2 separate regions of the Homo sapiens genome follow, and region 1 is linked to region 2. The links come from fine-mapping of genetic effects on plasma protein levels. Region 2 holds a variant in brackets. A gene starts in the other region. All regions are shown on their reverse strands.

Region 1 (5,523 bases), not on the chromosome of region 2:
AGTGATGTGGTCACAAAACCTATTCCTTTTTCTTCCTAAGCATACAGATGATGTATATTTTCCATCCCTTTGTCATTATGTTGGAGCCAGGTTACTTGATGCTGGCCATGGAATGTGGGTGAAAGTAATTTGTACCATTTTCAGAACTGATCCACAAAAATCTCCCAATCCTCCTCTGCTTCTCCCTTTTTGTATCAAGCTTGGAGGCCTTGTGCTGAAAATGGTGGCATCCAAGGTAGAAAAAGGCCTGGTTCCTGAATGAGTACATGGAGGATCCCAACACACACACCATCATCCCACTACTGACCCACACTGGACTGTAACATGAGCAAGAAATAAACTTTTATTTAATTAGTCTGCTGGATTGTTTATGATAGCAGTTGGCACACACAGACTAATGTAGGTAGGAACTCAATACTTGCTGGAAAAGTACAGGAACTTCCTGTAAGTCTCCTAGAAACAACTTGGCAGGTTGGCTAGTTTCCACAAAAACAAGAAGTAAGCATTATTTCTTTCCAACTCACTTTTCCTATAAACAACTTGTTTCCTGAGATTGTTCCTGATAACAATTATTATCATTTAACTTGAAGGGTTTACATAATGTTGTTATTGATGATAAGAAATATAGAAAATTTTTAATTGATGACTGTCTCCACAACTAACCATGAGATTTCAGCCATTTCCTATAAGATACACATATGTAGACCTGGCTCAATTTGTTTATTCATCCTTCTTTTAAAATGTATATTCATAAAGCACCTGGTATACACTAGGTTCTGCGTGAATGGGCAAAGATAAATAATAGATGTTCTCCATCCTGATGATTCAGATGAGGAGAGGAGATTAAATAACCATCTAACCACATCAGCAAGCAGAATGGGGGATGTACCTCCAAGAACAGCATGGTGAGGGCACTAAGCTGAGAGCCTGCGGAGATGAGATCTGTCCTGCATCCAAATCACTGTGTGCACATGAGAAAGTCACTGGTCCTTTCTGATTCCCAGCTTCCATTCAGTAAATGGCCAGTTTAGACAAATCAAATGGCAGATACATAGCATGCAAGCTGCACTGCAACAGAAACTGCACGTTGGTCACAGCGTATCTTCCCAATGTGCCTGGATATGGCCTCAGAATCATTTCCAACACAGAGCTCCAGTCCACCACTAATCAATGAAACCTACTAGCTATCCCTGAATTAGACATTTTCTAGGGTTCCCACCAAGCTTCTTTGCAGCAAAAGTCAGAGAAACCAGGAGAAGGTCCCAAAGAGATCCACTATCTGATTTCAGAAAGGACTAAGACTAAAGGCTTTATAGAAAACCCATAAGCTTTTACAGAGCTCCGTTGGGAGTCCCATGTTTCTTTATGGCATAATGGGTGAGAACACAGACTTGGAAGCCAAACCACCTGAATTTGAACCCCAGTTCCATTTACCAACTGTCAAAAGCTTAGGCTTTGATTCTGAGCCTGTTTCCTCAACTGCTGTTCTAAAGATTAAATAGGCTAATATTCATAAGGCAACTGGGACAGTGGCTTGTGTGTATAGCAACCATTATATAAGTGAATTATCTACTGAGCACCACAGCACTTCTTCACTCCATGGTGTGGTGACCAGAATGGAGATGAGACAGAGAACTGCAGGTTCTGCTTCGAGTTTAAGTTAGGATTTCCCTTGACCAATGAGACCTGACTTGGAGGAGTCCTGGCCTCATTCCATTACCCCAAACACCCTCTAGTCTCTAGATGAACAGATCCTGAATGTCCAGGCCCCACGTGGCCTGTTCTAAGGCCTGAGATGGAATTGGATACAGGACACATCCAGCCTTGAGATCTTTTGCTAAGTGTGACACAGTGCCCCCAGCCCTGTGCTCATGTTCATGCCTAGGGAAAGGCTTCTATCAAAAGAGTTGAACTTCTTCCCACTGGGGATGGAAGACCATTTCCTCCCTTAAACCTTGGCTCTCCCTGCTTCCTTCAGGCCACCAACAACACATGTGCAGGATATGAAATTGCTGAGGCATCACTGCTTTCCTACTTCCCTTCCAAGTCTCAGCTCCCTTATTTTAAAAAATATTTGGCCTCAATGATCATTTCTCAACAATTCCTCACCGCAGGAGCCTCTGAAGCTCCCACCAGGCCAGCTCTCCTCCCACAACAGCTTCCCACAGCATGAAGATCTCCGTGGCTGCCATTCCCTTCTTCCTCCTCATCACCATCGCCCTAGGGACCAAGACTGAATCCTCCTCACGTGAGTGCAATGCCTTGTCTTCCTTCCAACCTAGAGCCTGCAGGGAAATAAGCAGGAGTGAGGTTGGGGCTCAGGGGAAGACCAGGAGCAGGGACTCAGAAAGGAGGGCTGGTATCTTCTTGAAATTGTGTGTATAGCAACATTATATAAATGAATTATCTACTGAGCACCACAGCACTTCACCCCATGGTGTGGTGAGCAGGATGGAGATGAGACTTAGGACTGTAGGTTCTGCTTAAGAGTTTAAGTTGGGATCTTCCAGCCTTGACCAATGAGACTTGACTTGGGAGACTCCAGGCTTCATTCCACTACCCCAAATGCCCTCTAGTCTCCAAATAAACAGATCCTGAATCTCCAGGCCTCACATGGCCTTGATCTCTTATCATTGCCCCCCAGGACCAGTCCCCCCTTGCCCTCAAGGACATGGAGTGAGACCAGCCTGCCTCTCTACTCCCTCAATTTCTCTCTCTTTGCCGCTAAGCAAAAGAGTGGCCCACCCCATTTGGGGTATATTTCCTCAGGGAGATTAGGAGCAGTGTCTTGAGCCCCTCAAGGGCATTTTTCTATTGGCCTCCTGAGGTTTGGGCCCAGCCTGCTTCCAGCGTCACCTGTGCCCAGTGAGTGCAGCATTGCTTGGGTATGGGCTGGGGGGAAACACGACAGTGTGGGGTCCATCCTAGGCCCCCTTTTCTCAGCTGATTTCTTAGAATAAGCTGCCTTTAGAGATAACCAAAACTATTTATCACTCTTCCATTTTACCTACTCTCCTTTTCAGAAACTGGGGGGAAACCGAAGGTTGTTAAAATACAGCTAAAGTTGGTGGGTATGTGCACAGTTTGACTTGCCCTCTCCGATGTCATTTGTCAGCTCAGAGGAACAAGGTGGGAGAGTATAGGAGCTCTGACTGGGTCTCAGGAAACAGGGGCCCCTTATGCCGTTCTTTGGATCGTGAGGATGCTGCCTGGAATGGAGCTGGAAAACAGGATGAGACCCTTCCACCCAGACATCTGGCCACCCTCAGTGACCTCTGAGGCCATTGTGATGCACATCCATGATTCTATGAAGCAGGGTCACATAACATGCACACACCTGATTTCTCCACTCCATAACCACAACATGTGCCTGTTTGTACAGGGCTCTTGGCCTACAATGTCCTTCCTGCTACCTCTATAATTCAAGCTTGGGGTGGCTGCTGTCACCTTGCTTCTCCTATAAAAGCCATGAAACTTCTCAATCAGAAAATAGATGAAAAAATCACCCAATCCAGTGATTTTTAAAACTTTTTAGACCACAAAACCTTTTCTTCAAGCAATATCTTCCACAGAGGCCCAATATGTAAAACAGAAAAAATGGGTTGAGTAGGGTACAAGACACCACTCTCAAATGCAGCAAGGCCTCCACAATAGTCCCTGAGGCCCCCAGAGCTCCAGGGAGCTCAGTGTAAAAACCACTGATGCAGTCCAAGGGCCTCATTTACAGAGGAGGGAACAGGGGGAAAGTAAAATGGCCACAGTACACAGGAAGCACAGGCAAGGTTAGGTTAGGATTTGGGTGCCCTGACTCTGTGGCCTTTGTCCTTGGGGCTTGCTGTGGGCATCCTGCTCTCTCTGCAGGTTGTCGGTTCAATGGGGACATGGGCAGGGTGGAGCACTAGGAGGGGCTGGGTTTGCATTCCCAAATGGCATGTCTCCAAATCCCTATTGGGATTTCTTCCAAATATTCCTCCTATTTGGAGCACCTTTCCCGAATAAGGCATGAAGGCTGCATGATATTGGCCAAGTCCCTAGCCTTCTCTGCCAGTCGGCCCCCAGAGATGGTGTAAGAAGATCTGAGTGTGCTGCTCTTCAATCCTGGAGTTGAAAGTCATCCACCAGTCTTTCCAAGAGGGGTTGAAGAAAAGGAGGAAGGGTGATTGATGATGAGGGAGGAGAAAAAGAAGAGCCCAGGAGTACCATGGAGAAGGAGAAGAGAAGATGAGGAAAGCCTACTCTCCCCTCCAAGTTCTGAGGGGCTGTCTCCTCCTTCCTTCCCTCCTCCATGCCCTCAGCTTGCAGGAGCAGCCAATGGTATGGCCTTTAACAAGGGGCCCCTCCTCAGCATCTGATGCTCTCTCCTCAGGGGGACCTTACCACCCCTCAGAGTGCTGCTTCACCTACACTACCTACAAGATCCCGCGTCAGCGGATTATGGATTACTATGAGACCAACAGCCAGTGCTCCAAGCCCGGAATTGTGTAGGTGGTACACACACATCACACTGGGGGGAGAGGGAGCCAGCAGGGCCTCCTGGAGGGAAGCAGGGAGTGGTGGTGGAATGGGGACCCCCAGCGTACCTCCCAGGTGTGACTACATGGGGAGAGGCAGCTGAGGGGCAATCTGAGCGCTTTCTGGCTGGAGCCTGCAGGAGCCATGGGGAAACTGACCCCATGGATGGGGAGATGACAGAGAAGGGAGAAGAAGGCAAGAGGGCACTTCCTCAGGGGGACACAGAGACTAGATGGGTCTAGGGGTCCTAGGAACCGAAGAGTATGTCTCAGAGAGGAGACTGGCTCTAAGCTGCCTCTGTGGAAGAAAGGAAAAGCAGTATAGGTCAGGTGGGGAATTTAGGAGGGAGGGAAGATGGGCTGTCTCTTCCGGCCACTGGGCCCCTCGGTTTGTGATCCTTCTCCCTCTTGCTCCACAGCTTCATCACCAAAAGGGGCCATTCCGTCTGTACCAACCCCAGTGACAAGTGGGTCCAGGACTATATCAAGGACATGAAGGAGAACTGAGTGACCCAGAAGGGGTGGCGAAGGCACAGCTCAGAGACATAAAGAGAAGATGCCAAGGCCCCCTCCTCCACCCACCGCTAACTCTCAGCCCCAGTCACCCTCTTGGAGCTTCCCTGCTTTGAATTAAAGACCACTCATGCTCTTCCCTGGCCTCATTCCTTTCTACGGGATTTACTCATTGGCCATGCACTGAGGACACCAGGGTGTGGCACCCTCGGCATCAAGCCTCGCTCTGCAGAAGTTTTGCTGGAGCCTGGTACAAAAAATAGGTCAGGCCTGCAATGCAGGTAGTGAGAAGCAGAAAGTGAGAAAGAAAAGCAGTGTAAAGACCGTCTCCTCCTCAGCAACAACAGTAGCAGACCCCGTTTTCTTAATGCTTTCTATACTCCAAGCACTCTGCTAGGCAGTCTGTATGCATTATCTTATTTAAGCTTCATGACAAGTGTAAAAGCTACAAATCATCATTTGATTTTTTAGGTAACACTTCATAAAGGGCTCTCTATAG
Region 2 (5,000 bases):
CTGGATTTTCTAAGAGGCCTATAACCCTCCTCCTATCCCGTAAACATTAGCAATACCCTATTTAGAGGAAAAAGACTAGGTCCATGCTCTTAGAAAGACTAGAAAGATGAAAGGTACAGTTTGGAGCTACATACAATGTATTTTTGCATGATACGGAGAACTACCCAGGAAAAAAAAATACAGTTATCTTTGAAGAGGGCAAGGGTGAAACTTGACACGTTATCTGGGAAACCAAAGGCAGTAGGCAACTTTTTTTTTTTTTTTTTTTGAGATGGAGTCTCACTCTGTCGCTCAGGCTGGAGTGCAGTGGCGCGATCTCGGCTTACTGCAAGCTCCACCTCCCGGGTTCACAAGCAGTAGGCAACTTTAAATGACCACAGATGTGGTAGGAACATATAGAGAAAGCTGAGGACAAATGGCATTGATGGGGAAGTTGAGACTTTCATGCTAGAAACCAAGTTTGCAAACAATCAGGCAATGATTTTGAGATACTAGAGAGCTATAAGAACTTAATCTTCTCATTTATAAAAATGTATCCAAAAGATTTCCTAAATCTAAGTGCAACATAAAGATGTCTGATACATCCCCTTAAAATGATGTTCCCGCCGGGCGCGGTGGCTCACGCCTGTGATCCCAGCACTTTGGGAGGCTGAGGCAGGTGGATCACCTGAAGTCAGAGTTCGAGACCAGGCTGGCCAAACTGGTGAGACCCCCCCGTCTCTACTAAAAATACAAAAAATTAGCCTGGCGTGGTGGTGCACACCTGTAATCCCAGCTACTCAGGAGGCTGAGGCAGGAGAATCACTTGAACCTGGGAGGCGGAGGTTGCAGTGAGCCAAGATTGCACCACTACACTCCAGCCTGGGCAACAGAGTGAGACTCTGTCTCAAAAAAAAAAAAAAAAAAAGAAGATGTTCTCAAAATCCCCCAACCAATTTTCCAGAGCCAGTCTCTTAGAGAGTTTCTCTTCCCTTCACCAAATAGTTACAGGAAAGAAGAAAGCTAACGTGCATTTTTGCAGAAATGATGCTTAAACACTCCCCATCCCTCCCTGTGTTCCCCACACCCTTCCTGCCCAAATCACCTAGATGTCTAGAGATGATTTGGAAGGACTTGGACTTGTTAATTAACCTAAACAGTCGCATTCGTCAGCAAGGTGCATTATTGTTAATTAAAACTCCGATTCTCCTTGTGCCCAGACGGCGGGCTGCTGTTGTCAGAATAATTAGATAGCATACGATGGTTTTCATGCAAATCTCTGGCAATTAGAGTTGGCGATGAATTGGGTTTGAAATCCCAGTGAAGTTCTCAATCAGAATTCCTCTGAGGGAGGAAGGTGGTGATGGGGTTGGGGGATAGGGAAATAGGAATGGAAAAAGGGTGTGAGGACCAAGTATTTGTTTTCTAAATCCTAAGGGAGGGGCCTCAGCTTGGAATAAATGAACTATGAGCGTCAATGTGATGTTCAAACTTCCCTTGAATAATAGATCTCTCTCCTTTAGAAAGCAAAGCAAACTGACCTTCCTCAGGGTCCTGTGTTTTCCCAAGAGCTTGCTTCCCTGGCTCTCATCTTTCTGAGAGGATTTTTTTCTTTAGCTAGGATGCCCAATATCTCATACACAGCTAAAGTCCCTGCCAACCCTAAGATTAAATTCTTAAGGGCTTTAAGGAGACAGGATTTGTATTCCTGAAGGGTTGCAGAAAAGATGCCAGACTCAGACCAATTTTAGAGTGGTTGATGGCATGCAGTGGGTTAAATGCATGGGGTGGCAGGTCCCCAAGAAAGCTTTAAAGAAATGACTGAGGTCCGGGTTAGACTTAAGGAGGAGCTCTCCAAGTGCTGCCTAGGTAATGGCAGGGAAAGGGCAGCCCAAAAGGCCTGGAGCAATCCCGGTGGGGGTGGGGATGAGGAGGATGTAGCAGGGGGCGGGGGTAGGGCACTGTCTCCAGCCCACCCTAACCTCTTAGCAGCTTCGGGCTTCTGCAGCTGCCTTTCCCTTGTGAAAGCCATGAGAGCTGCCAAGCTATTACCCAGGAGTCTGGGGTTCTCTCTAACTGGACTGACTGACCAGGGATTTCTATCCAGAGGCACAGGGTTGGGGGCAGATAAGACAAGCCTACTGGTCTTAAATTAAGCCTCCCTTGCATCAGGTTGACACTGGAAGATTCAGGGAGTCAAAAACGCCCTCTCCTCCCCCTCAACTAGGTCAGCTTCCAAATCAGTACCTTGTAAGGGAGGACAGCAACATCTGGTAGAATTGCAAGAGTGGTCAAGGACGGGAGGGGGATATTGAGAGAAGCCTGGAAAAAAAAAAGCGGGGGAAAAAATACTAGAACACATTCATGAACTGTGGTTGGAAACCAGAGCATAATTTAGGTTTGTAAATTATTTCCTTTCTCTTCATTTTCTCTCCCTTCCTTTCTGTTTCAGAATGTCTCCCGCGTCTCAATCGGTCCCTAAATCCCGCCTTTCAATTGAGGACGAACCAATCAGGAGCTAACCTGGTGGTTGCTAAGAGACAGGAGGTGGGAGATTTAGAGGCCTTGTCGTGGCACCCACCCAGGAAAATTCCCTAAGCCTTTTGCACCCTCCTGCCTAAGCTATTCTAACTCATCTCTGCACCTCTCCCGCACTCGCCTACTATTCCCAAGCCCAGAGAGTCAAGCAGAAACATTTTAGTAAAGAAACCAGGTATAGCATATCTTTGGAAAATGGTAAGATGGTAATTGGGTTCAAACTGATAGAACGTATCTGCTCAAGTTTCCCCAGCCTTTAGTTGGGTTAGAGGTAGGAACTAACTGTTTTGTAGCCTCTTGGGTAGAGGGTGAATTTGCTCTTGGTGGTAAAAGCTGTGCCCCTGATGAGGAGGGGTTTCTGTCCTTCCAGCCATCTAAACTTGGGTAGGTAGAGACTGAGAAAAATCTCAAAGGTCATGATTAAGCAGCCAGAGAATCAGGGGTTGGGAAAAAGGTGCCCAGGGGATTGGGGTATTGTGTGGAAGGTGGAAGGAAAGATGTATGTGGGAAATAAAGGTTTATTTCAAAAGCTGAGATTCTGAAAGGGAAATTCGGGGAATTCCAAGCAGAAGATGAATCAAATCAGGGCCTCCCCCTTCAAGTTTCTCCACCCTTCACAACTTCTTGATCTTTTCTTCCCTCCACACATCCTACACAGAAAAGACTAGGCTTAAAAACCAGGGTAAAGAAAACTCATTTGGGTAAGGAGTGAGTCATAAATCCCGATTCTATATCCTGTGAACAGGGATGAGTGCAGAATTGAGTGGGGGTTTGGGTCCTGAGAAAAGTCAGTGCACACGCACAGGTGTGCGCAGTTCAGGTGCTGACAGAGATGCAAGCTCATGGGTGGACATATGTTTTTACATGCATACATCTAACATAAAGGTAGATTCTAACAGATCGAGAAACAGATGTGTACACACACACACACACACACACGCACGCACATTCAGGTCATGCTGAGGAACCTGGGAGAGATGACTCCCAGGAAGTGGCTTTTTAAATTACCTTGATATGTTCCCTGAACTGAGTAACATCCCCTGGGATGCTTCTTTCACCTTCCCCACCACTGTCCTAATCACTAAACAAAGCCAGAGAGGAGACAGAAGACAGAGGCTGGGCAGGTTGGACAGGGGGAGGTGGTATTGCTCTGGGCTTTGTCATCACTCTTCACTGTTTATCTCTCAGTTTGAGTTCCTATTCCATTTGCTTCCCAGAACAGCTTTTTTTCCAGCTAAGCCATCCCTTCTGTTTTTTTTGGTTTAATGACTCCCCTCATGCTCTGGTTCCTCTTCTCTTCTCCCTTGAGATGGCCGTGACCCCACACCTCAAGAGAACATCTGTGTACCCTGAGGGTATTTATTCATCATTCACCTTCTTCCCAAGCCAGCTATAGAAGCAGACACTGGCAAGAAAGTCTGACATAAAAATGTCTCTCTCTCCATTCTCCTTCTTCTCCCCAGACAAAATAAGAAACCACCCGCTTCACAAAGGCAGTGTAGACTTTAATTCAGGTTGACAGGTGGGAAGAGAACTAGGATTTGCTTCCAAGGGTGTCCAGATGAGAAGACCATCCTTCAGGGAGGGGCAGAGAGGGCAAGAGGGTGCGGGTGGCCTGGTGGCAGAATAGGGCGAGGAGCAGGGGCGTAGCCACACAGTGCAAAATTGCCAGGGCTTCTGCCAGGTTCAGCAGCAGGTCCAGAGCCTGCTGGGCCAGACATGTTGACAACAGCAACAGCTTGGACCTCACCAGGAAATCCAGTCCTAGAACCACCCCATGAGGCCACCAGAAAATAAACCAGGCCCACAGGATATTCATCCAGGGGCCTGGCCCCATACCCAATGCCTTCTTCAGCCCCTTGGCTCCAAACAAACCCAATGGCAACAAGACAAAGATGGCAAGACAGGCTACAGTGTGTGTGGCCTGCAAAGCCTTCAGCTCCGTGCTGTATATCAGGGTGCAGAGTCCACCAGAAGCACCACTGGCCAGGGTGACAGGCAGTGTCAGTAGGGCAGCCACTCCCCAAATTCCCACAGTGAGCCCCAGGGTGAGGCCTGGGACCTGGCCTGCACCCAGTCTGTGGCCCAGGGAGGCATGGCACCCTAGCAGCAAAGCCTGGGCAAAGGCTGAGCCATACCAGACACAGTAGCCCAGGCTACACAGGGCAGAGCTGCGAGTGCTACCTAGCCCTGGGGCCAAGACGGGCACCACAATGCTGAAGAGGGCACTGCCCACAGCCAGCTGTGCCAGGACAGGCCAGCCAGGGCAGAGCTGCCAGC[G/A]GAAGAGAGGTCTGAAAAGCATGAAGAGGACAGTGCTGCTAGCTAGGATACCCAGGACACTGGTGAGGATGAAGAAGGGCAGTGCAGAGTCATCCAGCAGGTTACAGGAGTGGCAGGGGGCAGCTGCTTCCAGGTTGGCACCATAGTCTCCATCTGGGAAGGAATCATTCACACCATAGGAAGAATTCCATACATCTTCGAAG

Alleles and levels. Positions count from the first base shown, and alleles are read on the strand shown. Strength reflects both the effect of a copy and how common the allele is.
With allele G in place of A in region 2, the plasma level of the protein whose gene starts at base 2,090 in region 1 is lower (weak association).

Evidence for each region. PIP is the posterior inclusion probability: the model's chance that the variant is causal. Protein levels are from antibody-based Olink assays in UK Biobank. Linkage for the fine-mapping came from a reference panel and not from the study's own genotypes, which makes the PIPs less certain.
Region 1: it holds the start of CCL14, and the variant in region 2 is fine-mapped to the plasma level of the CCL14 protein (UK Biobank, PIP above 0.99).

The regions. Positions count from the first base shown.
Region 1 is chr17:35,983,296-35,988,818 of GRCh38, reverse strand. CCL14 (C-C motif chemokine ligand 14) reads left to right here and starts at 2,090. Exons shown (of 3, transcript NM_032963.4): 1 at 2,090-2,248; 2 at 4,367-4,481; 3 at 4,931-5,523. The coding sequence starts at 2,170. The coding sequence ends at 5,018. CCL15-CCL14 (CCL15-CCL14 readthrough (NMD candidate)) reads left to right here. Exons shown (of 7, transcript NR_027922.3): 5 at 2,115-2,248; 6 at 4,367-4,481; 7 at 4,931-5,163.
Region 2 is chr1:159,205,502-159,210,501 of GRCh38, reverse strand. ACKR1 (atypical chemokine receptor 1 (Duffy blood group)) reads right to left here. Exons shown (of 2, transcript NM_002036.4): 2 at 4,002-5,000. The coding sequence ends at 4,052. Among named protein-coding and RNA genes, the nearest start is that of ACKR1, 3.1 kb to the right of the region's middle. The variant G/A (reference allele first, on the strand shown) is at 4,798.